Linked DNA regions of Homo sapiens. The protein of the gene in region 7 purifies or fractionates together with the protein of the main gene of each other region. This does not show direct contact. Each region holds a gene or a part of one and is shown on either strand. Other genes may lie near its edges. The genes, in order: NUDT19, GFM2, REXO5, TBC1D9B, CHDH, ACAD10 and BPNT1.

The links.
Region 1: the proteins of BPNT1 (region 7) and NUDT19 purify together in Homo sapiens (affinity purification with mass spectrometry; 2 studies listed by BioGRID and IntAct, with this or other methods). This does not show direct contact.
Region 2: the proteins of BPNT1 (region 7) and GFM2 purify together in Homo sapiens (affinity purification with mass spectrometry; 2 studies listed by BioGRID and IntAct, with this or other methods). This does not show direct contact.
Region 3: the proteins of BPNT1 (region 7) and REXO5 purify together in Homo sapiens (affinity purification with mass spectrometry; 2 studies listed by BioGRID and IntAct, with this or other methods). This does not show direct contact.
Region 4: the proteins of BPNT1 (region 7) and TBC1D9B purify together in Homo sapiens (affinity purification with mass spectrometry; 2 studies listed by BioGRID and IntAct, with this or other methods). This does not show direct contact.
Region 5: the proteins of BPNT1 (region 7) and CHDH purify together in Homo sapiens (affinity purification with mass spectrometry; 2 studies listed by BioGRID and IntAct, with this or other methods). This does not show direct contact.
Region 6: the proteins of BPNT1 (region 7) and ACAD10 purify together in Homo sapiens (affinity purification with mass spectrometry; 2 studies listed by BioGRID and IntAct, with this or other methods). This does not show direct contact.

Annotation. Positions count from the first base shown.
Region 1 is NC_000019.10:32,690,064-32,694,897, reverse strand, and holds the start of NUDT19 (acyl-coenzyme A diphosphatase NUDT19 precursor), read right to left. Parts: upstream 3,078-4,834; 5' UTR 2,938-3,077; coding exon 2,224-2,937; intron 1,934-2,223; exon of another isoform or gene 804-1,933; intron 1-803. UniProt on the Homo sapiens protein: Fatty acyl-coenzyme A (CoA) diphosphatase that hydrolyzes fatty acyl-CoA to yield acyl-4'-phosphopantetheine and adenosine 3',5'-bisphosphate.
Region 2 is NC_000005.10:74,735,752-74,739,786, forward strand, and holds part of GFM2 (ribosome-releasing factor 2, mitochondrial), read right to left. Parts: intron 2,892-4,035; coding exon 2,751-2,891; intron 2,667-2,750; coding exon 2,567-2,666; intron 1,235-2,566; coding exon 1,045-1,234; coding exon of another isoform or gene 1,013-1,044; exon of another isoform or gene 593-1,012; intron 1-592.
Region 3 is NC_000016.10:20,844,215-20,847,568, reverse strand, and holds part of REXO5 (RNA exonuclease 5), read right to left. Parts: intron 2,941-3,354; coding exon 2,724-2,940; intron 2,516-2,723; coding exon 2,328-2,515; intron 1,349-2,327; coding exon 1,230-1,348; intron 1-1,229.
Region 4 is NC_000005.10:179,873,160-179,877,194, forward strand, and holds part of TBC1D9B (TBC1 domain family member 9B), read right to left. Parts: intron 2,879-4,035; coding exon 2,761-2,878; intron 2,029-2,760; coding exon 1,743-2,028; intron 90-1,742; coding exon 1-89. UniProt on the Homo sapiens protein: May act as a GTPase-activating protein for Rab family protein(s).
Region 5 is NC_000003.12:53,843,085-53,847,864, forward strand, and holds the start of CHDH (choline dehydrogenase, mitochondrial), read right to left. Parts: upstream 3,336-4,780; 5' UTR 2,999-3,335; intron 1-2,998. Other genes in the region: IL17RB (interleukin-17 receptor B precursor), read left to right, coding at 3,505-3,564.
Region 6 is NC_000012.12:111,692,215-111,696,249, reverse strand, and holds part of ACAD10 (acyl-CoA dehydrogenase family member 10), read right to left. Parts: intron 3,554-4,035; 5' UTR 3,541-3,553; coding exon 3,354-3,540; intron 1-3,353.
Region 7 is NC_000001.11:220,086,840-220,091,557, forward strand, and holds the start of BPNT1 (3'(2'),5'-bisphosphate nucleotidase 1), read right to left. Parts: upstream 2,950-4,718; 5' UTR 2,847-2,949; exon of another isoform or gene 2,805-2,846; intron 1-2,804. UniProt on the Homo sapiens protein: Phosphatase that converts 3'(2')-phosphoadenosine 5'-phosphate (PAP) to AMP and inositol 1,4-bisphosphate (Ins(1,4)P2) to inositol 4-phosphate. Is also able to hydrolyze adenosine 3'-phosphate 5'-phosphosulfate (PAPS) to adenosine 5'-phosphosulfate (APS).

The DNA.
Region 1 (4,834 bases), on a different chromosome or scaffold from region 7:
AAGGAAACTCTTACAGAAGCAGAGTTAGGAAAATTGCCTAATAATTGGTCTGCTCAAATGTGCAAGCTGTTTGCACTCAGCCAAACCTTAAAGTACTTACAGAATCAGGAAGGAGCCATCTATACCAATTTTAAGTGAATATGGACTGAACGAGGTCTTATTAATAGCAAAGAATAATTGAAATCCCAAACTTAAGGTTTTCAACAAAAGTAAAGTTTGCTAAAAGTTAACAGTGTAACACATATTATCCTAACTTCTAATCTTATGGACATCAGACCCTATCAGTGCCCCTCAAAGCTCAAGTCCATCAGCACAGGGCCATACAACTGATACCCCTACTTATAGGGCTAGAAATGGCCACTGCTACAGGAACCGGAATAGCCAGTTTATCTACTTCATTATCTTACTACCACACACTCTCAAAGTATTTCTCAGACAGTTTGCAAGAAATAACAAAATCTATTCAGTAAGGATAGTAACTACAATCCCAAATAGACTCTGGCAGCAGTGACTCTCCAAAACCCCCGAGGCCTAGACCTCCTCACTGCTGAGAAAGGAGGACTTTGCACCTTAGGGGAAGAGTGTTGTTTTTACACTAACAAGTCAGGGATAGTGCAAGATGCCGCCCGGCATTTACAGGAAAAGGTTTCTGAAATCAGACAACGCCTTTCAAACTCTTATACCAACCTCTGGAGTTGGGCAACATGGCTTCTCCCCTTTCTACATCCTGTGACAGCCGTTTTACTATTACTCGCCTTCGGGCCCTGTATTTTTAACCTCCTTGTCAAATTTGTTTCCTCTAGAATCAAGGCCATCAAACTACAGATGGTCTTACAAACGGAAACCCAAATGAGCTCAACTAACAACTTCTACCGAGGACCCCTGGACCGACCCACTGGCCCTTTCACTGGCCTAGAGAGTTCCCCTCTGGAGGACACTACAACTGCAGGGCCCCTTCTTTGCCCCTGTCCAGCAGGAAGTAGCTAGAGCAGTCATTGCCCAATTCCCAACAGCAGATGGGGTGCCCTGTTTAGAGGCGGGATTGAGAGGTGAAGCCCCTGGACTTCCTGGGTCCAGTGGGGACTTGGAGAACTTTTCTGTCTAGCTAAAGATTTGTAAATGCACCAATCAGCACTCTGTAAAAACGCACCAATCAGTGCTCTGTGTCTAGCTAAAGGTTTGTAAATGCACCAATCAGTACTATGTAAAAACGCACCAATCAGTGCTCTGTCTAGCTAAAGATTTGTAAACGCACCAATCCGCACTCTGTAAAAATGGACCAATCAGCACTCTGCAAAATGGACCAATCAGCAGGACATGGGCAGGGCCAAATAAGGGAATAAAAGCTGGCCACCCAGCCACCAGCACCCAACCTGCTCTGATCCCCTTCCGCTGTGGGAGGTTTGTTCTTTTGCTCTTTGCAATAAATCTTGCTGCTGCTCACTCCTTGGGTCCGCACTACCTTTATAAGCTGTAACACTGACCACAAATGTCTGCAGCTTCGCTCCTGAAGCCAGCGAGACCACAAACCCACCAAGAGGAACAAACAACTCCTGACGCACCACCTTTAAGAGCTGTAACACTCACTGCGAAGGTCTGCGGCTTCAATCCTGAAGTCAGCGAGACCACGAACCTACCAGAAGGAAGAAACTCCAGACACATCTGAACATCTGAAGGAAGAAACTGGACACACCATCTTTAAGAACTGTAACACTCACTTCGAGGGTCCGCGGCTTTATTCTTAAAGTCAGCGAGACCAAGAACCCACTGGAAGGAACCAATTCTGGACACACCAGGAGCTGGAGACGAGCCTGGGTGTGCAACACAGAGAGACAAGACCCCCATCTGTACCAAAAATAAATAAAAATAGGAAGACTGGATCATATTAAGTCTGTTCTCCAAGAAAACCAAATTAAACGGCTGTGGAGATGTACTATGTCTACACATGTACAAGTGCTTACACAGTGGCCACGCTGGAGGAACCACGTGGAGAGACAGGCTCCAGGCCTTGAGACCCCAAAGCCTAGGAAAGCAGAGAGCACTTCACCAAGAGCATGGCTTTGGTCTACAGGGGTGAGAGTTTCCAGCCCGTCTAAGCGTTCCTTGCTGCTTAATCTCTCTGGGCTTGGCCTATGCGGGGGTCCCTTGGGGGCCTGGGCCGCTGGGAGGGGTCCTCCCTCTCACGTCCTGGCGGTCCGCAGCAAGGCCCTGAGCAGGCCTTACCTGGTAGCCCACCACCTCCGCCAAGTCGGGGTAGACGGGCGGCGGCTCGCGCAGGCAGCACAGGAAGAAGGCCGTGTCAAAGCGGCGAGTGGTGCCCCGCAAGAAAGGGGTGAGCCAGGCGCTCCAGTTGTGCAGCGCCCAGATGTCGGGTGTGCAGTCGAGGTGGGCGCACAGCCGCAGGAAGTGGCGCGGGTCCTGGCGCACGCGGTCGCGCCAGGAGGCCAGGCCCGGCGGTGGCTCCAGGGCGAGGCCAGGCCCGGGTGCTGGGCCTGGTGGGGAAGTCCTGGGCCGCAGCAGCAGCACGCCCGCCTCCTCAAAGGCCTCCCGCACGGCGCAGATGCGGAAGGCTACGTCCTCAGGCAGCGTCCCAGTGTTGTCGGTCTTGTGGTCATCGGTGTCGGGCAGCGACGGGAAAGCGGTGCGGCTGAATGGCGCCGGGCCCAGGCCGAAGCGCGGCGGCCCGTGGTGCGGCGCGAAGAGGCCCAGCCAGTCCGCCGAGCGGTCGGCCGCATCCAGCACTCCGCCGGAGAAGACGTGCGCGCCCGGCATGAAGCCTTGGTGCGGGGAGCGCTGCAGCAGCAGCAGCCGGAAGCCCTCGGCCGGCGGCGGGCGCGACGGCGGGGTGGCGGTCTCCGGGCGCGACCAGCCAGCCGCCAGGACGATGCTGGCCGCCCGCCGCCAGCGGCTGGGGCCCGGCCGCAGGGAGCTGCTCATGGCGCGCAGCTTCCCGGATCCGATTCTGGCGCGGCCTGAGCTCCACGGCAGGTGGCCCGGCCCTGCAGGGACCCCAGCACCTCCGGGGGCCTCGCGGGAATTGAGGACGAGCCTCTGGCGTTGGGTGAACCTGGGCGTTTGGTCGGCAACGGCGCCTGCCTGTGGGAGGGGCACCCGAGCAGGGACCGCCTCGAGTGCACTGGGGCCCAGCTAGGGCACTCTCGCGGGACAATGGGTGTCACGGCAGCCAGCGACCGTTTGTCATTCACAGCTGCCTGAAAGGAGGACCGCAGTATTCCCACGCAGGAAGCTTGGACCAAAAGCAGGAATGCTTAAGGGCGCATATGACTTGCCATGGTAAAAAACAGGATGCCAACCCAGGCCTGATGACATCCACCTCACTAAAAGCTAAGGACTAGGACTTTCTGCTTTAAACAAGGACCCACATGTGGGTGTTTTCTGTGGGAGAGGGAGAGAGGACATTCGAAGGGCAGAAGTCTGACCTTTGCAAGCACACGTGAACCACACCAATGAGAAATGAATGGACGAGCCAGATGCCAATTTATAAATTTCCTACTGCACACCTTGAATGTGAAAGGTACTCCCAGAGTAATTTCTCTCGTGTTCTGGTTACCTTTTATTGTCAGGGCGCCTGGGGACGGCCTTAGGTGTCTTAGGACATTTGACGAGTTCCACTTTGATGGGAGATGTTTAATCTGGGCCTCCACATGGAGATTTCTCTCCACCTTGTTAGTGTCTAGAAGACTTCCACCTCCAATAGCAGGATTATGATCTTTTGAAAAGCCTGTGTAAATTTGAGTCTTTTCTTTTATAACTCCTTATCAGTCACCGACAGCTTTTCCCATAATTGCTATTATAATTGGATCACACATTTGTTATGTTTTTGGATGAAATACACTATACCCCTGCCGACCCTCACAAACCATCATTTTAATGTGGGTTATTTCCTGGGTAGAATCCACAGATGACATTGTCAATATTTAGGGGTTTTGTTTGTTTTTTTGTTTGAAGAGACCTGGTCTCTGGCCAGGCGCTGTGGCTTACACCTGTAATCCCAGCACTTTGGGAGGCCGAGGTGGTCGGATCACCTGAGGCCAGGACTTCAAGACCAGCATGGCCAACATGGCAAAACCCCGCCTCTACTAAAAATACAAAAATTAGCTGGGTGTGGCGGCCCGCGCCTATAGTTGCAGCTACTCAGGAGGCTGAGGCAGGAGAATCACTTGAATCTGGGTGGAGGTTGCTGTGAGCCAAGATCCTGCCACTGCATTCCGGCATGGGTGACAGAGCGAGACTCTGTCTCAAAAAAATAAATAAATAAATAAAATAAAAATACAGAGCAATGGAGAGAAAGGCACTCAGGTGATTAAAGTAACATGTCTTCAATACTAGGAGTAATAATAATCCTAGGGGATAATAATATTAGTAGTTACTGGGTACAGTGTGTGAGGCACTAGGAACTTTATTAGTATTAGTTGTGTAATTCTTACAAAACCCCATGAAGTGGAAACAGTTACCACTATTTTACAGATGACTAACCATTTATGGAGGGATTAAGGGTCTTAAGAACATACTACTCCCTTTGCTGTAAAATAACACCGTGGTTTTGTAGGTGAATGTGTGTGTTTCAACATCAGCTGGTTTTCACAGAAGCTGGTTACTCATGAGTGAGATGACCAAGTCCTGGTCCTGGGTGCATAGCAAAACAACAGAAACTGAACCTTTTTTTTTTTTGAGAGGGAGTCTGGCGCTCTCACCAGGCTGGAGTGCAGTGGTGCGATCTCGGCTTACTGCAATATCTGCCTCTCGGGTTCAAGCAATTCTCCTGCCTCAGCCTCTGGAGTAGCTGGGATTGCAGGCGCATGCTACTACGCCT
Region 2 (4,035 bases), on a different chromosome or scaffold from region 7:
AGGTACTATAGTTTTATTCTAATTTGGGTTAAAGAAGAGGGTCAAAATGAAGGCGGAAGTTTCACAAGAAATGAAGCCAGGCAAGAAGGCTGTGGCAGAGACTACTAGCAGCCTTCCACTCTACTCTGCTGCTGCCTACTTAAAAGGCTGCTTTTACCAGACTTCCTTGCAACAGGCTGCCATATGTCTCAGTGCTGGCCAATGACATAGAAGAAATCTTAAGAGAAAAGGGGTATTATCTTCTTCCTTCCCCTTACTCCTTTCTGTTGTCAGGAACTCCAAGGTGATGCCCAAGGCTCCAGGAGCTATGCACTCAGGCAGGACAAAAAGATTAGAGCCTGGATCCCTGATAACATTGTGGAGCCACTCTAATCCCTGACTACCAATTCAAGGCTTCTGTTAGGAGATAGAGAGAAATAAATTTTTGTCCTATTAAAGCAATTGTTATTTGGGGGTTTTCTGCTATATGTAACCAAATCTAATTGGAAATTATAATTGGAATCATGGGTTTTACATACCACACTAAAGAGTTTGGGTGTGTGCTAGAAGTAATGAGAAGCCACTGAAAAAAATCTGAGCTAAAATGCTAAAGAACAAAGTTACTAACAAAAGGTCAAACAAGATTATCCACAGTATATAAATATCTTCATTGAGTTCTAGAGGTTGAGGTAGAAAACAAGGTAAAACAGCATTTTTATACATGATGATGACAAACTGAATTGGTTATGAATCAGTTACTGTCTAATCTAATATACTAGAAGGGCAGTTCTAAGGCCAATTACTTAGAATCCCATAGATAGCACTACAAGAGTAAGGAAGAATATAATATGAGAAGAATGGCCAAGAAATAAGAAGAGAAAAAAATGAAGGCATTTGTAAAAATCAAAACATCTTAAAAAACAAGACCAACCACAAGAAATGTTTACCAATATATTCAGATAAAATTTACCTCAATCACATAAGAAATCTCTTGAGGGTATATTGCAACTATTTTATATAAATTATCAGCGCACTAATTAGTTGACACACTAAGACCATTTATACCTGGCTGCTTAGACAGTGATGGGGGTTCTATGGTACAGAAGAAAACAGGTTCTGGAATCTCCACTCCAGCCAATAAAAGTCTCTCTGCTTCATTGTTTTGTCTGTGCTTCTTTTCTCCCTCCCGTTCGGCTCTACGAGCTGCAGCTAATGCACTGGACTTGGATGAGACAATGGTGTCTCCAGTGGCAGTCTGCAAGCAAACAAGATGACTTGGAACGAAAGTGGCATTTAGCAAGCGCTCATCTTACACCAAGAACCACAATATAAGAAAACTTTTTTGTGGCCCTTTCTTTTCATCAGAACTTAAAAGAGAAATAAAATTCAAAAAGCTCATTAATAACTTTGCATAAGTAAAGCTAATTTAACTTGCATAAGAATTCTATCCAAAATACTGTTGTAATAAATTCTAACAAACAATAAAACACACACACATACACATCCAAAATCATTTGGCAAAACAAATGTACCTTCCTAAATTTTCAATCATGACAAGACAGGTTAGGGAGAAGTCCATTAGAGTGTTCTACCACCCATAAGAATTTATTCCTTTTTTACAGAAAATCTCCTATTAACTAAAATATATAATTAACCAGAATACCCTTAACTGTGCAGATTGCTGGCTTCCATGTAGAGCCCAATTATCTTTTAAAAACTGTAATTTCACTTCTAAACTTTTATATTGTGAAGTTCTGTGCCAGTTTCCTTCTCTGTAAAAACAATCCTACTGAAGCAATAGTCCCAATGTATTTGTAGAGCTTCTTCAAATACATACAAGGAGCTCCTGCCTTCAGGGAGATAGAGGGGACATTCCAATGCCAGAAGTCCAGTGACCAGCCTATAGGAATTTTCTACTGAAGGATCTTCAAACTTGAAACTAGTCATGAAGAGTTAAAATGTTTAAAATAACAATGCTTACTACATAAAGGTCAATGAGAAAATATTTGATTTAATCCATATAAATGAAATATCCTTAGTTTTAACCCATGAAAAATAAATACAACATCAAGTATTTTCATCGATTCATCCTACAATTATCTATGGAGTGTCTACTATATGCAAACACTGATCTATGGACTGTAGGGCATTGAACAAAAAAGACAAAAATCCTTGCTCTCATGGAGGCTTTACTAACAAAACATTATAACCTGATCAGTTATAAGTCTAGGTTAAATTTTTTGCAATGCTCAAGATAGGAATAAACCCAATGGGAACAAAACAATATTTTATATAAACTTAAAACACACATATATGTATATACATATATATCCATAAACAGTATGTTATTTTACTTGGATTTGAACTTTATATGAATACAATCCATCCCGTCTGTGGTCTTCCGTAATCTACTTTTCTTCCTAGTAAATGTATGAGATTCAGCCATGTTGACAAATATGCCATAATATTCTTTATTCTACTATTGATGGACATTTGGATTGTTTATGGGTTTTTGATATTACAAGTTGCTTACTTGTAATTAAATATTTAAGCTGTTATTTCCTAGAGAAATCATTTGGTCACTTACATGTTTAAGCCCAACAGTCAAAGCAATGTTACCAGCAGTCAATGAAGGGATTTCTACATGTTGGTCAGCAAACGGCAAAAGCAGACGACTTATTCTCTCCCTGTAAAATCACAATTTTATGTTAGTAAAAGTATTTTTAAAGAAGTGCATACAGTTTTATAAAATAATCTAAGCTTCTACTTACGTGCAGTTTCCATTAATATTATGAATGGCCAACTGGGGTTTTATAGTGCCTGAGTAAATGCGCATAAAAACCAGTGGTCCTCGCTGCTTGTCATGGAGAACTTTAAATGCCAATGCACATAAGTCATCCTTATACCACTGCCTATAAAATAAACATTCCAAAAAGGCCTATAAAATACACTTCCCATAACTGCAGAAACTTAACCTTAATGTCCCCAAAGATCTATTTTATCTTCTAGTAGAGCTACTTAGAGCCACTAAATAATGTCTTTGTTACGTAACTCTCTTCTTCCATTGACTAAATTACTCAATGGAGATCTTACCATTAATTCCTCAAAACTAAAAATAACAGATTCTCTTCCAAATATTACTTCTATTTGTGAATAATTTCATTGCCAAGAGCTCTCCCCATGAAGGCTATACCTGGGAATATCACACTACTTATCAAGAAATCTGCACAGGGTAAATAAATAGGTACTTTCCAATTACTGCTTTTACGCTCTCCTTCCACTTTCTGTCCATTACATAACCATAAAAATCTATACTATAAACTTGAAATTGTTCACATAACCAACACTCTTAACAGAATGATGTTCTTAAACTGGTAATCACTGGTAAGTTTTAGAATTGAGTTCTCCTGCAATTGCCAAATTTTGCGCATCTAAGGAGAGCTCCATATTTTCATTAGTTTCAAAGGAATTCCTGACTTAAAGTAGTTTAAACACTTCTATGACAGAACTTCTCCAATCTTATTCCCATTCCCTCCAATTTTTAACTTTAATACATACTAATATAGAGCTTACTATACCAGGCACTGTTCTTTGTGCTTTACTAATCATTTAATTCTTATAAGAACACCATGAGATAGGTCCTATTCTTTGCATTTTATAGATGAGATGTTAAGGAACTTGGAAAAGCTAGGATTTAAATCCAATAGTACAAAGCCTGTGCTCTTCACCATCATGCCTCTCCAATTTAGAGATATGAAAAGTTATTAATGTCAGGATTAAGATAATTAAAGTCCATTTCTCTGCCATTTTACACATTGCTTACTCAGATTTTAAAGGACTTATTACTTAAGTACAAAGCTTTTAGTGACAATAGGAGTAAAACAATGACCTTTCTTTATAGCCACAAAATATTTTGAGCTTATGAAAAATCCTGAAATCCAGATGAATATAACTATAGAATATTTAACAAACATCCCCAGGATATCACTTTTCTAAGACTAAGATGGCAGGGTCAACACTTACACTTTTACACAGTGAAAAGACATACCTCTTAGC
Region 3 (3,354 bases), on a different chromosome or scaffold from region 7:
AATGGTCCTCAGATGCATGTTATAAGAACTTTATGCTAGGAAATGAATTTCTTCTGATCCACCTTCAAGGCCAGAGGTATTCATGCTCTGTCAACTCCTAGAATGTAAGAATCTTTTTTTTTTTTTTTTTTTGAGATAAGAGTCTTACTCTGTAGCCCAGGCTGGAGTGCAGTGGTGCAATCTCAGCTCACTGCAACCTCTGCCCCCTGGGTTCAAGTGATTCTCGTGCCTCAGCCTCCCAAGTAGTTGGGACCACAGGCACACAACACCAAACCTGGCTGGGTTTTTTTTTTTTGTTTTTTTTTTTGTGTGTGTGTTTTTGGTAGAGACAGGGTCTTGTCATGTTGCCTAGTCTGGTCTTGAACTCCTGAGCTCAAGTGCTCCGCTCACCTTGGCCTTCTAAAGTGCTAGGATTATAGGCATGAGCCACTGCGCCTAACCAGATGTCAGAATCTCAAGGGACTTTTAAAAATTAACACAACCCAAGGTTTTCACACTGTTCAAAAAAGCCACCATCTTTCCCTCCCTTCCCCAATATACACTCATTCATTTAGCTGCCCACTCACTCATTCCAAAACTGCCCATCTTTATGCTTTAAGATTTAATATCAGTTTTTCTTTAAAGAAAGGGTTTACAGTTAAAAGGGTTTGAAAATCAACTGATTTATTCCAAATCCCTCATGTTACTAAAAGGACATTGAGACCTACAGTGGGGAAGTAGCTTGGCCACTTGTCAGAGGAGATAGGTGATAAAGCTGCAACTAGACTCAAAGTCCTGCTCCAGTATTCCTCAGGCTTAGAATCAGCAAACCAGGCCCTGTTATCTCTTAAAACATAGGTGTCAATGGGGAAAAGGGTACAGAAGGCAGGAACACATTCCTCACATGTAGAGTGGTTACACCTAAGCCTAGGGCTTGTTCTGAGACTTTACTTTTTTTACTCAAGTGGGGTTAGCAGCTACTTCTTACTCCAGAGAGCAGTAAGGACATAAGACTCCTGGTTTTAACTGGGGATAAATTATCTCCTTGAGGGACCAATAAATGTAGTTATACAAGAGCATATAAATGTGAAATGGGAATACAATGCCTATCTTTTAGAACGGTGAAAATTAAAGAGATGATTCATGTAAGTCCTCACTATGTGCCTAAATATCAGCAAAAGGCTTTTTCTCTAAGAACAGCTGAAATCCAGGGGACAGAGTCCTGAAGGGATACCCTTTCTAGTCCTTACCTCTTGGTTCCTGGCAGCAGGATGAGGCAGAGAGTGCCCGGGCACAAGCTGTTGTAGAGCTTTCCAATCTTCCGGCTCCAGCGCCAGGCTGCTATCTTCGGGTGGTCCAGTTTCAGAGTCTGGGATCAAAGCCATGTGTCGATACTCAGCCAGAACACTCTCTCGTTACCTTTGGAAGGGCTGCAACACTCTTCCTCTGCCTCTAAGGCTATGGGATTCCAGTAAAGGTTCCAGACAAATCCCTTTTCTAACACTGGAGCCCACACTGCAGGTTCTCTGCTGACCCAGCATCCCCAGGCCTCCAAGTTGGCTAAGGACTTCCTCAGGGGAGGACAGCTACTGTCCTTTCCTCCACATGGGTCTTCCAAGACCCCAAGCTAGGGGAGCCACATTGCTGATGAGGGGTCTAGTCTGGCTTCTGCCATTAAGTCTCTTTGTGACCTTGGGCAAGTGACTTACCAACTCTAGCCCCTACTTTTCATCTGTTAAGTATGAGAGATTAGACTAAGACAGGGTTTCCCAAGCTTCAGCCATTTACCTTCTACCTCCACTCTTCTGCTTGTATATCCCTCTAACATTTTTCCATAAAGTGAGTTAATTTCTTCCTTAGCCTTGTCTAACTAATGCCATCCACAAAATCATAGGCTCAATGTAGTTATTGTATACTTTAACAAGTATTAGCAAAACAAGTCCATTCAGATGTCTTAGATATAATAAAAAGACGGACAAGTCCATAATCATAAAAGTGAAAACAAAAAAGAAAAGACCATCTATGACAACCACAATTTATCTTGTGTATATACCACACTTTGGGAAACCCTAGACTAGATCACTGAATAATTGTCCAGCTCTCTGACTTCCTGCCTTTGTCCTTCAAAGTCCCTTGGAGATCTGGAAGACTAAAAAACTAAGTTTAGCAGGTATGGTGGGGGCAAAAGTATGAGAGATCTGCGAGAAAAGATGTGGCCAGGACTGGAGGAAGCTGGAGAGTGAAATAAGACTGAGGGCCAGGGTAGAAAAAAAAAAAAGATTAAAGGATTAAGTGTCACTGAGCAGGACTCTCCTGACATCTTCTCCAAGACGCCTTCACTCACTCACCTGCAAGGCCTCCTGTTCAAAGGGGGGAGGTACAACACGAAGCCCTGGGAGCCTTGTTGATTCAGGTGGTAAGCCTCTGAGCCAGGCATGGAGGTGCCTGGGGGTTAGGGCATGCCTGCCTTTCAGCTTCCAGTCCTTGCCTGTGAGAATGTTGAGGGCCTGCTGGGCACTGCCAAAACTTTTGAATTCTGAAAGCAAGAACCCCCACCTTATGTTATTAAGGGCCAAGAAAGCTGATCACCATCCAAGCTGCCTGGCCAGGGTCAAAGGAGAAGGACAGAATCAGGAACTGCTGCCCTGGTCCAGCCCAGGAGGTGAATCTTCCTTTCTCTGACCTCATGTTATCACCATCCCCAGTTTCCTTCCCCAAAGCTACATTCAGTAGCATAGACTTACTCAGGAAACAGTATTTTTTCTGCTTTCCACTTTTAAGATCTTTAGGCAAGATCACAGCTTCCAGGCCAAGAAAGAGGCGGGGCTCCTGCAATAGCTGTTCTTTGAAGGTTTCACTCACTCCAGACAGATATATAGAGCCTTGGTTTTCAGAATCTCCTTCCAGCTCATTCACGAGGGTGTCACAATCAAGCGTGAGCTCTGTCACAGGCCTCTGCACCTAACCAAGGAAAGTTGGTGTTAGTGGTAGAAAATCAATTTAATCCTCAGGCCTATTGGATACTAGCAAGTTGTTGCCATTACTAATAACTTCATTTTTCAGTTTCCTAAAATTTTCCGTTTCTTTTCTTTTCTGTAAAAGGAAACTAAAGATAATGGCCTCACAGAATTATGTTAGAGACTTAATTGATAAATACATATTTTCATGTAAACATATTCTCTTCAGTTTCCTGCCTCCCACCCTTAATGAAATTCTGTTTATGTGCACAAGAAACTTCAAAATACCACCATTTGATCTCCCTGAAAGGTGAAGAAAAGGGTAACCACAAAGAACCAACCAGAATAAACCACAGGGGACTTAAGTAGTAACAAAGAATGCAAGGAAGACCCAAATCTAGCCCAGGATGATTTCTGA
Region 4 (4,035 bases), on a different chromosome or scaffold from region 7:
CAGGGGGGTCATCGCTGCTGCTCAGCAAGGCACGGAGGTGCGGGATAGGAGGAGAGACACTCTGCTTGTTGACCACATTATCCAGGTATCTGCAAAGGACAGAGGACAACAGTCCAGACCACGCCCAGGCAGAGGGAGCCTCCTTCCCACAGCTGGGTGATGCGGAGGGACCCAATCTTTATGCAGACTCCTAATAAGGAGTGTGCAGAGGACTGGGCACCCTGCAGGAGGGCAGAGGTGTGCCCTGGCAGCGCCCCCAGCAAGTTGGGGAGCCCTCTACAGGGCAGTGCCCCCGACAAGGCCTGAGCACTAACCCTGAGGACGCTGGGCTGTTTTCTTAGTCAGTGGGGGGGTCCCTTGGGCAGGAACGCCTTATAACCCCAGATCCTACCCAGTTGGAAGGATGACGAGCTTCCTCCCTTTGGCGGGGCCCTGGGGATGTGGGACCTTCTCGCCCTGGCCAAGAAGATTCAGGGATCAAAGGTTGAGTCGCAGGAGAAAGTCAGGTGTGGGGAGGCCTGCTGCAGCCCAGGGAATCAGCTTCTCTAGGGACACAGTCCTGGGGATGGAGCCCTACCTCTGTCAGCTGACCTAGCCCCGCCAGAGTTCATGGCCTCTCTGGGTCCCTGGGCTGAGCCTGACACTCAGGTGGGAGGAGGTAGCTGACTCCCCATGCCCATAGCCCTGGTCATATCCCCAGTCAGACCCCTGCTCTGGAGGAGGCCCTATCCGCCTATTGTAGGAAGCGGCAGGAAAACCAGCCACAGACTCCGGCCACAGGCTGAGTATCTTAACATCAGTGTGGACCAAAAGCTACTTAGGCCCACAGTAGGGAGGTGACAACCCTGCTGGATCTAGAGAGTCCCAGGCAGCACCTGGCCTGGCCATGGGCAAGTGGCAGAGTCCCAGGCTGTTCCTGGGGGCTGGGGGCATTCCAGTCCGGACAAATACGCTATGTAGGAGGGTGGGACTGCACAGAGCTCAGGGCAGGGCAGAGTGTAGCCAGGAGGGGCCGGGGCTTGAAGGCCAGGCTGGAGGCTCAGACAGTGCCTTTGTACAGAGGACCCAGGGAAGGGGCAGGGCCAGGTCTGATCAGAGTCATGGGATGCAGGCAGGTCAAAGACTGAGAGGGGAACCCCAGGGAAAGGGCATGGTGGGCCTGGGCTGAGGCAGCAGGCTGAAGGGAAGGGGCTGGATCCCAGACAGAATCTGCAAGAGATGGGATGTGGGGACTAAGGAGGGGGTGGAGGGGCTGGGATGACCCTGGACATTTGGCGTGACTAGTGGGACATCAGCTCATCCAGCTGTTCCAGCGGGCCCAGGGCAGGCCTGCTCCCTCCAGGGCATGGGGGCTGCAATGCAGCTGAGCTTGGAGAGGTATGACCGGGACCACCTGGTGGACATGAAATGCCCAGCTGTGCCACCAACTGGAATTGTGGTCACTGGATCTTGGCTCTGGTTTGCCCTCAGGGGAAGCATCTCCAACCCTACATCTGAGCGGTGGCCCTCCAGCCAGCATGCTCTGCCCGCAGTGCCTGCTTTACTCCTCCTGGCACCTATCACTGAGCGCTGCTTCATCTCCCACTAGAAAGGAGCCGCCTCCTGACCCCAGAGCACCCCCGGGTCCAGCTGCAGCCTGGCACTTGGTGGGCACAGTCACTTCAGGCTGACTGGACAGTGCCCGGGGCTGGTGAGGGGTTCTGCTGTGAGCCCCCAGCAGGAGAAGGAACCCGGCATGTCACCTGCCCAGCATGGTCATGGCCTCGCCCTCGTCGCTGCAGCCCAGCAGCTGCTCCATGTTGGCGTCCAGGACGGCCAGGGCCACCTGCAGGATCACCTTGATGCCCTCATAGAAAAAGCAGTCGACGATGACCACGGCGCTCTCGAAGGGCATGACGCTGAGGAAGAGGGTCAGGAACCAGGACAGCGAGATGCTGGAGATCACCCCCAGGTCCTGCATCTTCTCCGAGAGCTGCGGCAGGAAGTCTCTCGTGAGCTCTTCGAAGATGCCTTGGTCCACCAGGGCTCCTGCGGGCAGGATGAGCGAGGCTGATGGTGAGCCCACCCTGTGGCCTGGGTGGGCCCTCACCTGCAGCGTACGAGCCCTGGCCACTCCAGCCCTGCCAGCTGTGCAGTGAGGGCTGAGGGAGACTTGGAGTGCTGGGAGAAAACAAGGACGAAAAAACCCTTCAAGTCTCTCTACAGCTCCCAAACCACTGGGCGAAATAACTATTTCTTCTACTACACTTGAATTTTATTTTGGGGAAATACTGATTTCTCCGTAAGGCATGAGAGGTAAACAGCACCCTCAATGACTCTGTCCCATCCTGATGATTGTGAATAGACGCAGCTCTGAAGGACCCCAAGAGCGGTAACTCCAAACACCAGACAGCAGGGGAAGGACAGGATAACATGCTTAAATATGAACCTAATTAAACACTCTTGCAAGTCCATTTCCACTTCATAACAGATTTCACTGGATATGAGTTCAGTAAAGTTGAGCATCAGGTTACATGGGGGATATATACTCTCTAGTTTTGATGTTTGAAATTTTCCATAATCAAAAAGTTGACAGGAAGTTAGATGGATAGGAATTTAGGCTCTGAGGGGACTTTTATAAACCACCGAATGTGTAATACTACCCTCTAACTCCTAGGGAACCCACGTGAAGCCTGGAGCTTGGCCTGGGAAGGGCTGCCACCCTCATGGAACCAGCAGGCACCTGGAGACCCAGGCGAGGCAGCACCCGGGGACACTCACCCACCACCCTGGTGTTGTAGTAGTCGGGCAGCATGCGCTCGCACAGGGCCACCAGGAGCCAGAAGGCCTCCTCCTCACTGCCATAGAGCAGGAGCACCGAGGTCACGATGTTCATTGCCTGCCGGGCACAGAGACAGCCGGGGAAGGCTTGCACTGCTGGCCAGCAAATAAAACTGTCTCTCCCCACCCCTCCCAGCCACCCCTCCCTGCAAGGGCCCACATGATCTTCTTTTTGTTGTTGTTATTTTTATTATTTTTCAGGTTCTCGTGGTGAAGATTAATGGCCTCCTCCTACAAGCAAATCTGCCTCTTCAGGAGGGCTGGGCATCCGGTAATGAGAAACTGCCCCTACCCAACTCTGGGAAATGTCAAAAGGCAATTTGTAGGAAACTGATGGAACAGAGAGTCTGCCAACTCCTTCAAACTGGGTCAGAAGGCACTGGGAAACCAGAGAAGGTGAACATCAACACATCACACTTCTGCGGAGTGGTGTTGGGTGTTGGAGGTGGGATTATGACCAAGCTGATGTGGAGGTGAGCCACAAGGCCAGAGCCCCACACCAAGGCCACCCACTCGGTGCACAACTAGGACCACACACAGCCCTAGCTGCTAACAAGACCTTTAAGGCAAACAGAAAGCCATATGACTTGGCCAGGAAAATGCCTAGATTTAAAATCAAAAGCTGCGAGAAATGCTAACCTAAAGTACAATTAGATACCCTCATGCCCATCACTCTAACAACAACAGAATATAGCAAGTGTTGATGAGGATGTGGAGAAATCGGAACCCTTGTGAACTGCTGGTGGGAATATAAAATGGTGCAGCTGCTGGGGAGGAAGTATGGAGTTCCTCAAAAAATTAAAAATAGGCCAGGCCACAGTAGCTCACACTTTGTAATCCTAGCACTTTAGGAGGCTGAGGAGGTCGGATCACTTGAGCCCAGGAGTTCAAGACCAGCCTGGGCCACACAGTGAGACCCCATCTCTATAAAAAATACAAAAAGTAACTGGGCGTGGTGGTGTGTACCTGTAGTTCCAGCTACCCAGGAGGCTGAAGTGGGAGGATCGATTGAGCCCAGTAGGTGGAGGCTGCAGTGAGCCATGATCATGCCACTGAGATCCAGTGTGGGCAACAGAAGGAGATCCTGTCTCAAAAAAAAAAAAAAAAAAAAAAAAAGCCCAGGAATGGTGGCTGGTGGCTCACGCCTATAATCCCAGCACTTTGAGAGGCTGAGGCGGAAAGATCACTTGAGCCTAGGAGTTTGAGGCCAGTCTG
Region 5 (4,780 bases), on a different chromosome or scaffold from region 7:
TTCTCCCAGGGATGGATCAGGCAAAGAAGCAAAGGTCGGAATAACAATGACAGAATCTGGGGATTACCGTGACTCTTGGGTCCTAGGGAATTTCCCCCCCCACCTTTTTTTTTTTTTTTTGGTTCTGCCTCTCCTGCCCCTAAATTTACACAGCACTCTTAAATCCTTCAACTTGCTTTCCTATCTGCTGTTTTGCTGTTTCTTCTGCGTTTCCTAACAGCCCTGCTGGGGAGGCAGAACTGATGTCAGCCCCATGTTACAGATGGAGAAACAGGTTCCAAAAGACTAAGAGCCTCACTCAAGGCCAACAGATGGTGAATGAGCCGCAGAACCAGGTGGTCTGGAAGCCAGGCATCTCACCGCGCTGTGGCTGCACAGAGTCTGTGCAGACCCTAGGGTCTGGGTCAGGGCCATAGGTACTTGACCCAGTGATCTTCCAGGCTCTGGCAGAGGCCCTGACCTTTGCTCTGCTTGTGAAGAAAGAGGAGGAAGTTCAAACCAGCTCCCCTGGGTGGGCAGGCTCAGGCACTGGCCTTGGATGAAGGTAGGTGTTAATTTATTCATCCATTCAAGCATTTAATGAGCACCCCCTACAAAGCCCCCCCGGACAGGAAGGCACACTGGCTGGTAGCTCTTTCAGAAACCCAGACCTAGCAGAATTTATGACTGAAGGGAGAAGGTCAGAAAATGTCCAAAGGTCGCTTCTCTCATAGACTCAAATCACTTCATCGCCCCTATCACCACCCCATTTTACAGAAAAGGAAACTGCTCTGAGAAGAGCAGTGACTTGCCAGAGCCTCCAGTTCAAAAAGCCACAAAGTCATCAGGCTTAGGCAGCCAAATAAATTGTGTGCCTTCCGGCAGGCCACCTGGGACCTCTCATGCAGGGCCACTTGAGGCATGGCCTTCTGAGCTAGGGGGGAAAACCCCCGAGGGGACAGGCAGACACACCTGTTTGCCCACCTCAACCTCCAGTTGTGGCTACAGGGCCCTTCACACCCTCTCCTCCACTCCACAGCCCCAACTACGAAACTGAACCAGGTATCACCCCATCCCTAAGCCCCAGGGGGCCAGGGCAGTGTCATTCTGAACCCAGAACAGCAGGAAAGCCACTTGGCCTGGGTCTTGGGTCTCTGCCTGGCAGCCCCTGCCTGAGTACTCCTCCTTCTTACAGCTCAGCCACCTCCAGACCACCCTCACCTGACACTTCTTCCCCTGGGGGGAGAAAGAACCTCAGCCCTTCTCTTTTTACAAAACCCCCTCCCCTATCCTTTTGCCAAGGCTTCCTGTGACTGCCACCAACCAGCCTCAGTGCCCTTGGTCTCTCTGCCCCATCTGACCCCATGAGCTCCTCCCTCACTACTGGGCTTTCCTGCTGCAGCCCCTTAGACCTCCCCACCTCCTCAGGCAAGCTCTCCTCCCCAGGGCTCTATCCTCCTCTCCTCTCCACTGCCCCCTGAGAAAGTCTGACTCATGAACCCTGTCTCCAGGCCTAACCTCCGCACCCTGGTTGTCTCAAAGCCTGTGTGCCGAACAACACCAAGCTCACAGCAGGGCCTGCCCTGGCACACAACTGAAAAGCCAGCACAGCCCAGAGCCTGGCCCACAGCACAGAATCAGATACTCACGGAATGAACGCATGTTAGTGAATGGCTGCCTGCTCGCTCGTCTCAGAGGGACTAGCCCTCTATTTTGCCCTGCAGAGCCAACCAGGTGGCCTTTCTAAAACCAAAAATGGATGACCATTTAAGCCTGTACCATTGTTCCTCAGCACCATGGGACAAAGTTCACAATCTTGAGCTTGCAGACGAGGCTGTTTTCATCTGGGCTTCCGCAGCAAGGCGGGTACTTGTGTCCTTGAAAATAATTCTCACTGCACTCATCCTCACTCCAGGAGTACCCATCAGCCAGCACCCATGTGTGGTTCACCTTTGCACCCAGCAGGTATTTGCTGAACAGGAAGATGACTATTAGAGCTGAAAATGTTCTCAAGGGCCACAGGGCCCAAAGCAACTCAGAGAGGTGGAATGAGGGGCTCAGGGTGGCCCAGTCCCAGGCAGGGGTGCGGCCACAACCTCAACTGAGTTCCTTGGTCAGGAAACAGAGCAATTCTCTGAAAATGCTACCTGCAACTCCACACGTATGCATGCCAGAGCCCAAACCCCTGGCTGATCCCCAGTCCATGCAAGCCTTAATCAAGCTGGCAGGTGGGCCAGGCCTGGCACACAAGTAGGGCCTCAGCTAAAACAGCTGCTTGACTTAGTACAGCCTCTCACCAGCTGACAACACACCCCTAAGTTCCATACCCCTCTCTAGGCCTCCGTCTTCTCATCTGTAGAATGGAGCTAATTCTGCCTACAAGTTTAAATGGCCCTGAGTTGGTCACCACAACCCTGTCGTTTGCAAACCGAGGGGGCTGAAGCAGCAGTTCCAGCCTCTGTGACTCCACTGTTAGCCCAGCTGATTTTTGTGAACTTTCCCCCAAACCCACTGTGTCTCAAAGGATGGTCCCTGGGCCACCCACCCACGAATTACGGGGGCGTGGGTGGAGGCTCGTTAAATGCAGATCCCGGGCCTGACCCGGACCTGCCGTCTGGATCTCATTTTAGGCGGCGCTAGAGATCCCGGGCCAGGGAAACTTGAGAACCGCAGCTCCAAATCGCCAGTGCTGACGGCTTCCGCTTTGGGAGCCCCAGGTGTTGCTGTCCGAACTCACTTGGTGGAAACAGACATTTACCAGAAAGCCTGGGGTCGGGCAGCGGGCACTCCTACCGCTCTAACCCCGCGTAGCTGAAAGAATTCGCTCCCTCAAAGGAGTCAGTGAGCTTCGGCAGTCTGCGTTCCACCCGTTTCGCTTCGCGCGGCGGGGCGATTGTGTAAAGCGGGCCCGGGTCTCGGCGTCCAGCCCGGCCCCAAACCTCCGGCCCCCAGGCCTCTCCGGGCTAGCGGCCGGGCGGCGCTGCTGCGGGGTGGTCGGGGCGCCTCCGCGGCTACTCACCCGGGGCGACTCGGCCGAGAGCCCGACAGTCGGGACCGGAGCGGGAGGAGCGGGTGGCCGCGGCCCGGCCCCTGCCCCGCGGCACTTTAACCGGCGGCGCCGGCGCCCCGCGCGCTCTCTGCGTCCGGAATGGGGACGCAGCAGTTCCGACCCGGTCGGCCCCGGAGCCGCGAGGCTAGCTGGGCTCCAGCGGAGGCGCGCGAAGCCCGAGGGCGGGTGCAGCTGATGCACCTGGCTCACTGCATGCACGTGTGCGCGGGGGTAGGCGCGCGCCGCGGCGGCCCGTGCTCCGCCAGCGCTCGGACACGGCCCATCCCTCCGAGCCCCAGCAGGCGAGGGCGCTGCGACCTGCCCCAGCCTGGGAGGGGGCCAGCGGGCCCGCCCTCTGTTCGGGTGGCGGGAATGGGTCGGCGCTGCGAGAGGCGGAGCCGAGAAGGGGCGGCCCGGCGGCGCCGGGATAAAAGCGCAGCGTGCGGGTGGCCTGGATCCCGCGCAGTGGCCCGGCGATGTCGCTCGTGCTGCTAAGCCTGGCCGCGCTGTGCAGGAGCGCCGTACCCCGAGAGCCGGTAAGCCCCCGCCAGCACCTCTTCCCTCATCTCCCGGCCCTCGAGCCCAGATCCTGACGTCGTCTGATCCGCCAGTCCAGGCTGCCCCGAAGGCGTGCGCGGACTGCCGGCTCAAGGGGCATGCCTGCACCCTCAGGGCAGCCCCGGACATCGGCGTCAGGTTGCTTGAGTCAGGGGCGTGGGAATCAGACAGACCCGGTCTCAGATGCCACCCTGTACTGTTGGTTCTGTCATTTATGCTCACCAAGTTCCAAGTCCCGAACGGTAAAACGAAGGGCAGTACCGAACCCACCAGGGTCTCTTAAGGTATAACGACATGGCCTGCAATTAGCGGCGAAGGGCCTGGCACGTAGTTATTGTTACTTGGGGTCTGCTCACCTGTTGGGGCACAAGAACTGTTTCTCCATTAGTACCCCCTCCCTTTTTGGCCATATTGATTGCCATGTTCACTCGTGAAGGCAGTTGCCTTTCTTCCCCAGTACCCTGAATGATCGAGGGAATCTTCTGGGTCACTGAAGAGAAAATAGCTCATCCCCCAAATAACCTTTGAAATGATACCGCTGCCCTCTTAGAATAGCATATAGCATCAAGCTCCGTAGTCACCTGCTGGTGGACAAACCCCATTCACTGTTTCCTGATGTCTTCAGCTCCTATCCTTCCCCTCTGTGTCAGTTCAGAAGCCCTCTTGGCTCTTTGCACTAAAGGGAAGAATTCATCCCTTTTGCTGTAGTTGCTGCAAGGCCAACAATTTGAGCTTGGTAGCATTTAGGGTTGTTGCTTGGCCTCTCACCGGCCGTTTGATAAGAACTCAGCTCCTGGTATGATGGCTCATTTGTTAAAAAAAAAAAAAAAAAGTCAAGTCTGGCCGGGCTCGGTGGCTCACGCCTGTAATCCCAGCACTTTGGGAGGCTGAGGCGGCCGGATTGCCTGAGGTCAGGAGTTTGGGAACAGCCTGGCTAACATGGTGAAACCCCGTCTCTACTAAAAATACAAAAAGTAGCCGGGCATGGTGGCAGGCGCCTGTAATCCCAGCTACTCCGGAGGCTGAGGCAGGAGAATCACTTGAACCCGGGAGCCAGAGGTTGCAGTGAGCCGAGATCTGCGCCACTGTACTCCAGCCTGGGTGACAAAGTGAGACTCTGTCTCAGAAAAAGGAAAAAAAAATCTGATGATATCCCTTAGAGTTCATTTTTTAAAAGACAAATAAATGATTGAC
Region 6 (4,035 bases), on a different chromosome or scaffold from region 7:
AAGACCCCATCTCTATAAAAAACAAAAATTAGGCATAGTGGCAAACACCTGTAGTCCCAGCTACTTGGGAGCCTGAGGCAGGATTGCTTGAGCCCAGGAGTTTCAGGCTGCAGTGAGCCATGATTGTACCACTGCACTCCAGCCTAAGAAACAGAGCGCGATCCCATCTCAAGAAAAAAAAAAATAGTATAGTACAGTAATTCTAGTGTATATATATATATACTTTTTTTTTTTTTGAGACAGAGTCTTGCTCTGTCTCCCAAGCTGCAGCGCAATGGTATGATCTCAGCTCACTGCAACCTCTGTTTCCCGGGTTCAAGTGGTTCTCCCTGCTCAGCCTCCAGAGTAGCTGCAATTTCAGGTGCCCATCACCATGCCCCGCTTATTTTTGAATTTTTAGTAGAGATTGGATTTTGCCATGTTGGCCAGGCTGGTCTCAAACTCATGACCTCAAGTGATCCGCCCATCTCGTCCTCCCAAAGTGCTGAGATTAAAGGCATGAGCCACCGCACCTGGCCAATTCTAGTATATTCTTATCAAATGACCCTTGATATGGTTCATTTGAAATAAATAACATTAGAAGCTCCAGTCAAGCAAAAGACAAAGTAGAAGGCATCACTATTTTGTTCACATTTACCCATCAAACATTTCCTGAATGACTGAGCCAGCCTGCAGAGCTAACACTGCAACAGTGAAGTGAAGAAATCCCAGACCTGGGGTCCTGGAATCCAAGAGCCCCATAGAGGAGACATGAACATATCCCACTGCAAACAAAAATATCTCGGTGAAGGTGAAACTTAATGGGAATTGGCTATCCAGGAACATTCTGCCCAGGTTGCAAATGAGGTTGGAGAAGTCTTGACAGAAGAGGACTCTTGAAGTTAGTAACAACCATGAGATTTACTGAGTGTTCAAAAGATTCCAGTCATTGCTGAATAATATCCCCTTAAATTTGCCATTAAAAGCATCAGTAGGATTTGAACAGGCAGAGGAGGCAGGGAGGAAACACAGCTTGCAAAGGCACAAACATGCAAATGTGCCTGGCATGCCTGGGGAGCATCAGGTAGTCCATAGCAGGAAAGCTAAAACTGAGAGGAGCCCTGAATCCCAGGTGAAAGCTTCTAGACTTAATCTAGGGGACCACATGCAGGCATTCAAGATTTTCAAGCCAGGGATGAAAGGAACAAGATCTATGCTTTATTTTTATTTTATTTATTATTTTGTGACAGGGTCTCACTTTGTCACCCAGGCTGGAGTGCAGTGGTGCAATCTCAGCTCACTGCAGCCTCAATCGCCCAGGCTAAAGAGTTCCTCCCACCGCAGCCCCTCAAGTAGCTGGGACTACATCCATGCACCACCATGCCCAGGTACGCTTTTTGTATTTTTCGTAGAGACAAGGTTTCACCAGGTTGGCCAGGCTGGTCTTGAACTCCTGTGCTCAAGCGATCTGCCCACCTCGGCCTCCTAAATTGCTGAGATTACAGGTGTGAGCTGCTAAGCGCAGAAGCACGATCCATGTTTTAGAAAGGTTAATTCTGGAGCTGGGAGGAGATTTTGTAAAATCCAGAGAGCCAGAGGCAGAGGAAGTTAGGAGGCTGATGACATCATTTGGGTGAGAGAAGGCAAGGGTGGAGGCAGTGGCAATGGAGAGAAGTGAATTGGTTCTTAAGATATTCTAGAGAAAGTCAAGAAACTTTCTGTCCAGTGATCTTTATGTTCTTCCCTGCTGCCTTTTTTTTTAGAGACAGGTTCTCTAAAAAAGACTGTTGTGCCAGTCTGGGGTGCAGTGGTGCAATCCTAGCTCACCATAGGGTCTCACTGTGTTGCTCAGGTTTAGTCTTTATGTTCTTTGTAGAAGAACAGATTCAGCTATCTGCAGAGCAAGAATATTTGGGGGTGGTAAGGAGCAGGGGGAGTGGACAGTCTGGAACAGCCCCTGAGGTAAACATGACAGAGATACGAGTGAAGGAACAGAGAGATAAGAGTGAAGGAACAGAGAGGCTCAGGCGTAGCACCAATGGCCCAACTGAGGCTGGAGCTCAGAAACCAGCTTGTGCAGCCAGTTAGCACGGCTGAGTAATTTGGTCAGCAGTGCTGGAAAGCCTAGACACGCAGGCATAGAAAACCTGTGCCTGGGTTGATTTAGGATGGAGAACTGGCCAACCAGCCACCACAGAAGGTCAAAAGGAGAGGGATGGCTGCCTGGCCCTTTGTCCTTCCTGCTGGCTGGCATGAGAATATGATAGCAGGAGGCGACACAGCCAAGACAGACCACAATGTAAGAGTGGAAATGAAAAGTCACAGCAGAGCAACATGCTATAAAGAGTCGGAGTCCCTGATACCACAGAGTCGCATCACACAGTGCCCCAGACCACATACCTGGGCTTTTATGTGCAAGAGAAAGAAACTTCTAGCTTGTTTCAGTCACTGTTTTGTTAGGTTTTCTACTGCTTGAAGCCAAAACGACTTTAACTAATAAAAACTGAACTGAGTAGAAAAGAAGTAAAACCAGGAAGGGGCTGGTAAAGAGAAGACCAGAGACCAGAGGGCTGACCCTTACCCTGTCAGTCCAGAAGCAGGTTTAGAGGGAGTGGGGTAGAAGGGAGGAAGGCTGTAATCAAAAGGGGAATTTCAGCATTCTAGATTTCAGAAGTAGAACAGTTCCCAAGAAGAAGTGGTTAAATTCTTTGGGATTTTTGGTTGTTTGTTTTTGAGTAAGGGTCTTGCTCTGTTACCCAGGCTGGAGTGCAGTGGCATGATCACGGCTGACTACAGCCTCAACCACCTGGATTCATGTGATCCTCCGACCTCAGCCTCCTGAGTAGCTAGAACTACAGGTGCCTGTCATCATGCCCAGATAATTTTTAAATTTCTGCAGATACGGGGTCTCACTATGTTGCTCAGGCTGGTCTTGAACTCCTGGGCTCAAACGACCCTCTCACCTCGGCCTCCAAAAGTGCTGGGATTACAGGCTTCAGCCACTGTGCCCTGCCTTGGTGGTTAAATTCTAATCACAGCATTCATGGCAGCTCATCATTGATTGAGAATTTAGGATGCACTGAGCAATCACTGTGCTAAGCAAGTGCTTCCCACGGATAACTCTCCGCCAAATCCCAAGGAGGAAGGCACTACCATTAGCTCATTTAATGATGAGGAAAGTAAGATTTGGAGAAGCTGAATCATGCGCCCAAGACACTCAGCCCCCTAGTGGTGCTTGGAATTCGACTCGAGAGCCAGAGCATGGCCTGCTGGGACACACTGCTGCCCAAGTGTTCCCCTCTGCCTTCCCGATCACCCTCCATTCTCCCACCACCACTCTAGTCCCACAAAGTGAAACAGAATCAATAGCTCACCTGCAGCGACTCTCCCTGGAGAAGGAATGAGAACTCCGCCCATGTCGAAAATCACCGCTCTGTAGGTGCTGCCTCCAAGGTGTGTCCATCGGTGGGACCCCTGGTGCCTGCGCTGGGTGTGTTTCAGGAAGGCTGTTCTCCACACCCACTGGAGACGGGGGGACTGGAAACAGCTCCTGACACACATGGTGAGGCTGAGGCTGTGTGGGAAGAAGGCACAGGGCGTTACTTGCCTGCACTGCCTCCCAACCAGGCCTCCATCCTGGAGCTCAGAGGGGCCAGCCAGACATCTCTAACCCATCTCCAACAGGCACTTCGAATCACACCCACAACTGACCTCAGTGTCTCCTCCCTCCCTGGCTACTTAGTCAAGGGCTCCATCGCCCACTCGGCTGCCCAAGCTAGAAAGCTGGGACTCGCCTCTGACTTTCTGCAATCTCTACCTCACCTCGCCCTATCTAGTTCTGTGCTGTCAAGTCTTTCTCCTGAAAATCTCATCTACCTCTTTGCATTCTCACTGCCACCATCTTGCCCATGGATCCTAACTGGCCCCCTTGCCTCTTCTCAGACCTCTCTCCAATTCTTTCTTCACCCTCCAGTCAGAGTATTCTTTAAAAATTGTAAATCTGGGCCAGGTGTGGTGGCTCACTCCTGTAATCCCACCACTATGGGAGGCCAAGGC
Region 7 (4,718 bases):
TTACAGGTGTGAGCCACTCCGCCCGGCCTGAGTTGCTAAACTTAAAAAAAAAAAAAAATGAGCCGGGCATATTGGCGGGCGCCTGTAACCCCAACTTCTTGGGAGGCTGAGGCAGGAGAATTGCTCGAACTTGGGAGGCGGAGGTTGCAGTGAGCCGAGATGGTGCCACTGCACTCCAGCCTGGGCGACAGAGCAAGACTCCGTCTCAAAAAAAAAAAAAAAAAAAGTTGAGTCCTTTTTGCATTCTTTTGATATTTTGATATAAATACATTTTGATATAAATACATTTCAATGCATGGTTTATAAAAGTAAAAAAAGAAACCATAAAAGCATGGAAATAAAAATTATAAACTTCATAAGCTTGGTAAATGCCCTTTAAGCATAAAACCAAGAATCCATAAAATATTCTATTGATAAATTTGACTCTATAAAACTAAGAGTTGCTGGGCGCGGTGGCCTGTAATCCCAGCACTTCGGGAGGCCAAGTCGGGCGGATGACGAGGTCAGGAGTTCAAGACCAGCCTGACCAACTTGGTGAAACCCTGTCTCTACTAAAAATACAAAAATTAGCCGGGCTTGGTGGCACGCGCCTGTAATCCCAGCTACTCAGGAGGCTGAGGCAGGAGAATTGCTTGAACCTGGGAGGTAGAAGTTGCAGTGAGCTGAGATCATTTGCACCATTGCACTCCAGCCTGGGTGACAGAGCGAGATTCCGTCTCAAAATCAATCAATCAATAAATAAAAATAAAATTAAAACTTCTACATGGCCAAAATACCATAAACTAAATAAACAGGTACTTGACAAAATGAGAAAAAAATATTGTATCACATACCAGACAAATGACTTAATTTGTAAAAGATCAGTATATAAAAGCTGAATAATCCAATAGAAAAATGAGCAAATAAACAAGAACGGGCAACACCTACAAAGAGAAAAGCACTGGCCATTAAATACATAAATACTCAGCTTCACTAATTATGAAAGAAATGCAAACTAAAACAATGAGAAATGATTATTTTATTTTTAATTAATTAATTAATTTATTTATTTTTTGAGACAGAGTTTTTGCTCTTGTTGCCCAGGCTGGAGTGCAATGGCGAGATCTTGGCTCACCGCAACCTCTGCCTCCCGGGTTTAAGCGATTCTCCTGCCTCAGCCTCCCGAGTAGCTGGGATTACAGGCAAGCATCTCCACACCTGGCTAATTTTGTATTTTTAGTAGAGACAGGGTTTCTCCATGTTGGTCAGGCTGGTCTCGAACTTCCGACCTCATGGCCTGCCTAAGCCTCCCAAAGTGCTAGGATTACAGGCGTGAGCCACCGCGCCGGGCCATGATTGTTTATTTTTAAGATTGGCATAGAAAAGAAAATTTGGCAGGGCACGGTGGCTCACACCTGTAATCCCAGCACTTTGGGAGGCCAAGGCAGGTGAATCACCTGAAGTTAGGAGTTCAAGACTAGCCTGGCCAACATGGTGAAACCCCATCTCTACTAAAAATACAAAAATTAACCAGGCATAGTAATACAAAAATTACTCAGGAGGCTGAGGCAGGAAAATTGCTTGAACATAGGAGGCAGAGGTTGTGGTGAGCCGAGATCGCGCCACTGCAGTCCAGCCTGGGCGACAGAGACTCCGACTCAAAAAAAAAAAAAAAAAAAAAAATTGTCGCTGAATGCAGTGGCTCACACCCGTAATCCTAGAACTTTTTGGGAGGCCAAGGCTGGTGTATTGCTTGAGCTCAGGAGTTCGAGACCAGCCTGGGCAACATGGCAAAACCTCGTCTCTACAAAAAAATGCAAAAATTAGATGGTGTGGTGGCACATGCCTGTAGTCCCAGCTGCTCGGGAGGCTGAGGTGGGAGAATCACCAGACCCTGGGAGGTCAAGGTTGCAGTGAGACATAATGGCACCACTGTACTCCAGCCTGGGGGACAGAGCTAGAACCTGTCTTAAAAAAAAAAAAAAAAGAAAGAAAGAAAGGCTGGGCGCGGTGGCTCACGCCTGTAATCCCAGCACTTTGGGAGGCCGAGACGGGCAGATCACGAGGTCAGGAGATCGAAACCATCCTGACTAACACGGTGAAACCCCGTCTCTACTAAAAATACAAAAAAAATTAGCCAGGCTTGGTGGTGGGCGCCTGTAGTCCCAGCTACTCGGGAGGCTGAGGCAGGAGAATGGCGTGAACCTGGGAGGTGGAGCTTGCAGTGAGCCGAGATTGCACCACTGCACTCAAGCCTGGGCGACAGAGCGAGACTCCGTCTCGAAAAAAAAAAAAAAAAAAAAAAAAGAAGGAGGAGGAAGGAGGAGGAAGAAGAAGAAGAAAAAAGAAGAAAGAAGAAGAGTTTGTCCTTTGTCCAGTTTGCAAGGGTGTGAGGGAACATGTTCCTGAGCATTGTTGGCAAAGCGGTGAACCCTCTTAGGAGAGTTTTGAGAACCTTAATAAAAGTATAAAGTACGTATCTTTTGAACCAACAATTATATTTACAGAGAAATCCAAATAAATCACGCAAACCTATAAATATGTAGAAATGGCAGTTGGAAGAATATTTGCTGTTTAAAGAAATTTAATTTTAGGTACCAAGCAGTTTCTAAATTTGGGTGCATCAACAAACTCAATGTCTAGGTTTGTCTTGTTTCTACAGTATATGGCTATAAAAACCTTCCGGATCACGAAAATAAAAGCACAGATAAACAATTAAAATATCGACACTCAAGAGTCCAAGTCGGAAGTTAGAATATCTGGAGAAGCAATCTGATTCACATAAACCTTTTTCGTTTTATTTTTTTAACATAAATCCTATCTACCTGGCTCTTGCCCTGACCGGCCGGAGAGAAACGGTGACAAACCTGGAACAACGTTGGACCAAAGACACTTCAGGAGGAGCAAAAGCGCGTTATCGTAGACCCAGGTCCCTCGTTGTGTCCAGTACCGAGCTTTGGCACTGTCAATAAGTCTTTTGAGAAGGATGGCATCCCTACCTCAGCTACTGAGCATGCGGGAAACTGCGCGCAAGCGCACAACAGCGATTTCACACTGCCTCTTTAGACTCCTGATCCGCGGGAAAATTCCACTTGTCCGTGTTTTCTCCAAGCTCTCCGTAGGTGCAAGTCACCTGTTGCATTAAATAAAAGCGAAAGATGTGTCAACTTTCAAAGATTGGCTAAAAAAAGAAAAAGAAGAAGGAAAGAACACATTAAGCCAGCAACAGTGTGTTGAAACAAAAAAAAGATTGGTTTTGGTTTCAGCTGTCTTCCAGCCCACTTCGTAGAGTTCACTGTTTTAAAATGTTCTTTGTATTAGTGATACCACTCTGCGGCTATTTAACTTCGAACCCCTAGCGGTCCGTGGACAGGCTTCAGCAGGTCCACCACACACACCTCCACCTCCCACTCCCCACGCAATAACACAGCAACTTTATGCAGAATTGTGTCAAAGATGCTTGCTTACCTTTTTTTTTTTTTTTTTTTTTTTTTTTTTAAGCGATAGATAGCTTGCTCTGTCGCCCAGAGTCGATTACGGCTCACTGCTGCCTTCCCACTTCTAGGCTCAAGCCATCCTCCCGCCTCAGCCTTCCGTGTAGCTGGGACTACTGGTGGAGGTGCGCGCCACCACACCCAGCTAATTAAAATATTTTTTGTGTACAGATGGGATCTTTTACTGGGGGGCGTGGTTGGGGAAGGGGGCAGTGTCTCATCCTGTCGCCCAGGCTGGAGTGCAGTGGCGCAGTCTAGGTTCACTACAACCTCCTCCTCCTGGGTTCAAGCGATCCTTCCTCCTTAGCCTCCCAAGTAGCTAGGACTACAGGCGCGCCACCACGCCGGGCTAATTTTGTTTGTTTTTTAAGTAGAGACGGGGTTTCATCATATTGGCCAGGCTGGTCTTGAACTCCTGACCCCAGGTGATCTGCTCACCTCGGCCTCCCAAAGTGCTGGGATTACAGGTGTGAGCCACTGCGCCCAGCTTAAAAAGGCTTTTACGTCTTCATTTGATTTTCACAATAACTCTGTGAGTTAAGTAGACCCTTTTTGGGAAGTGGAAAAATATACATAACTTAAATTATATTACTTTAACCATATATATATATATATATATATATATATATATATATATACACACACACACACACACACATATATACATATATATATTTTTTGAGACGGCGTCTTACTCTGTCGCCCAGGCTGGAGTGCAATGGCTTGATCTCGGCTCACTGCAACCTCTGCCTCCCAGGGTTCAAGCTATTCTCCTGCTTCAGCCTCCTGAGTAACTGGGACTACAGGCGCACACCACCCAGCCCAGCTAGTTTTTGCATTTTTTTTTTTTTTAGTAAAGACGGGGTTTCACCATGTTGGCCAGGCTGGTCTCGAACTCCTGACCTCATGATCCGCCCGCCTCGGCCTCCCAAAGTGCTGAGATTACAGGCATGAGCCACTGCACCTGGCCATACTTTGGTTTTTATAATTAAATTGTATAATTACATGACAAGTACAAATGGCTTAAATAAAGACAAACATAATGCAAGGTAAGCTCAACAAGTGAGAATAGAAATCTGCAGTCATCCTAAAGAGTAGCCATCTCCCAAGTGTTCATTGTATCCTCTCATAGGTTTTACGAGAAAACGGCATAGTTGAATTCAGCAAGTTATGTAGAGGTTGGTTAGGAGAGTTTCTATGTAAATATATCTTTGTGCTCCTGGAAGACTATAGCTGTGATAGATC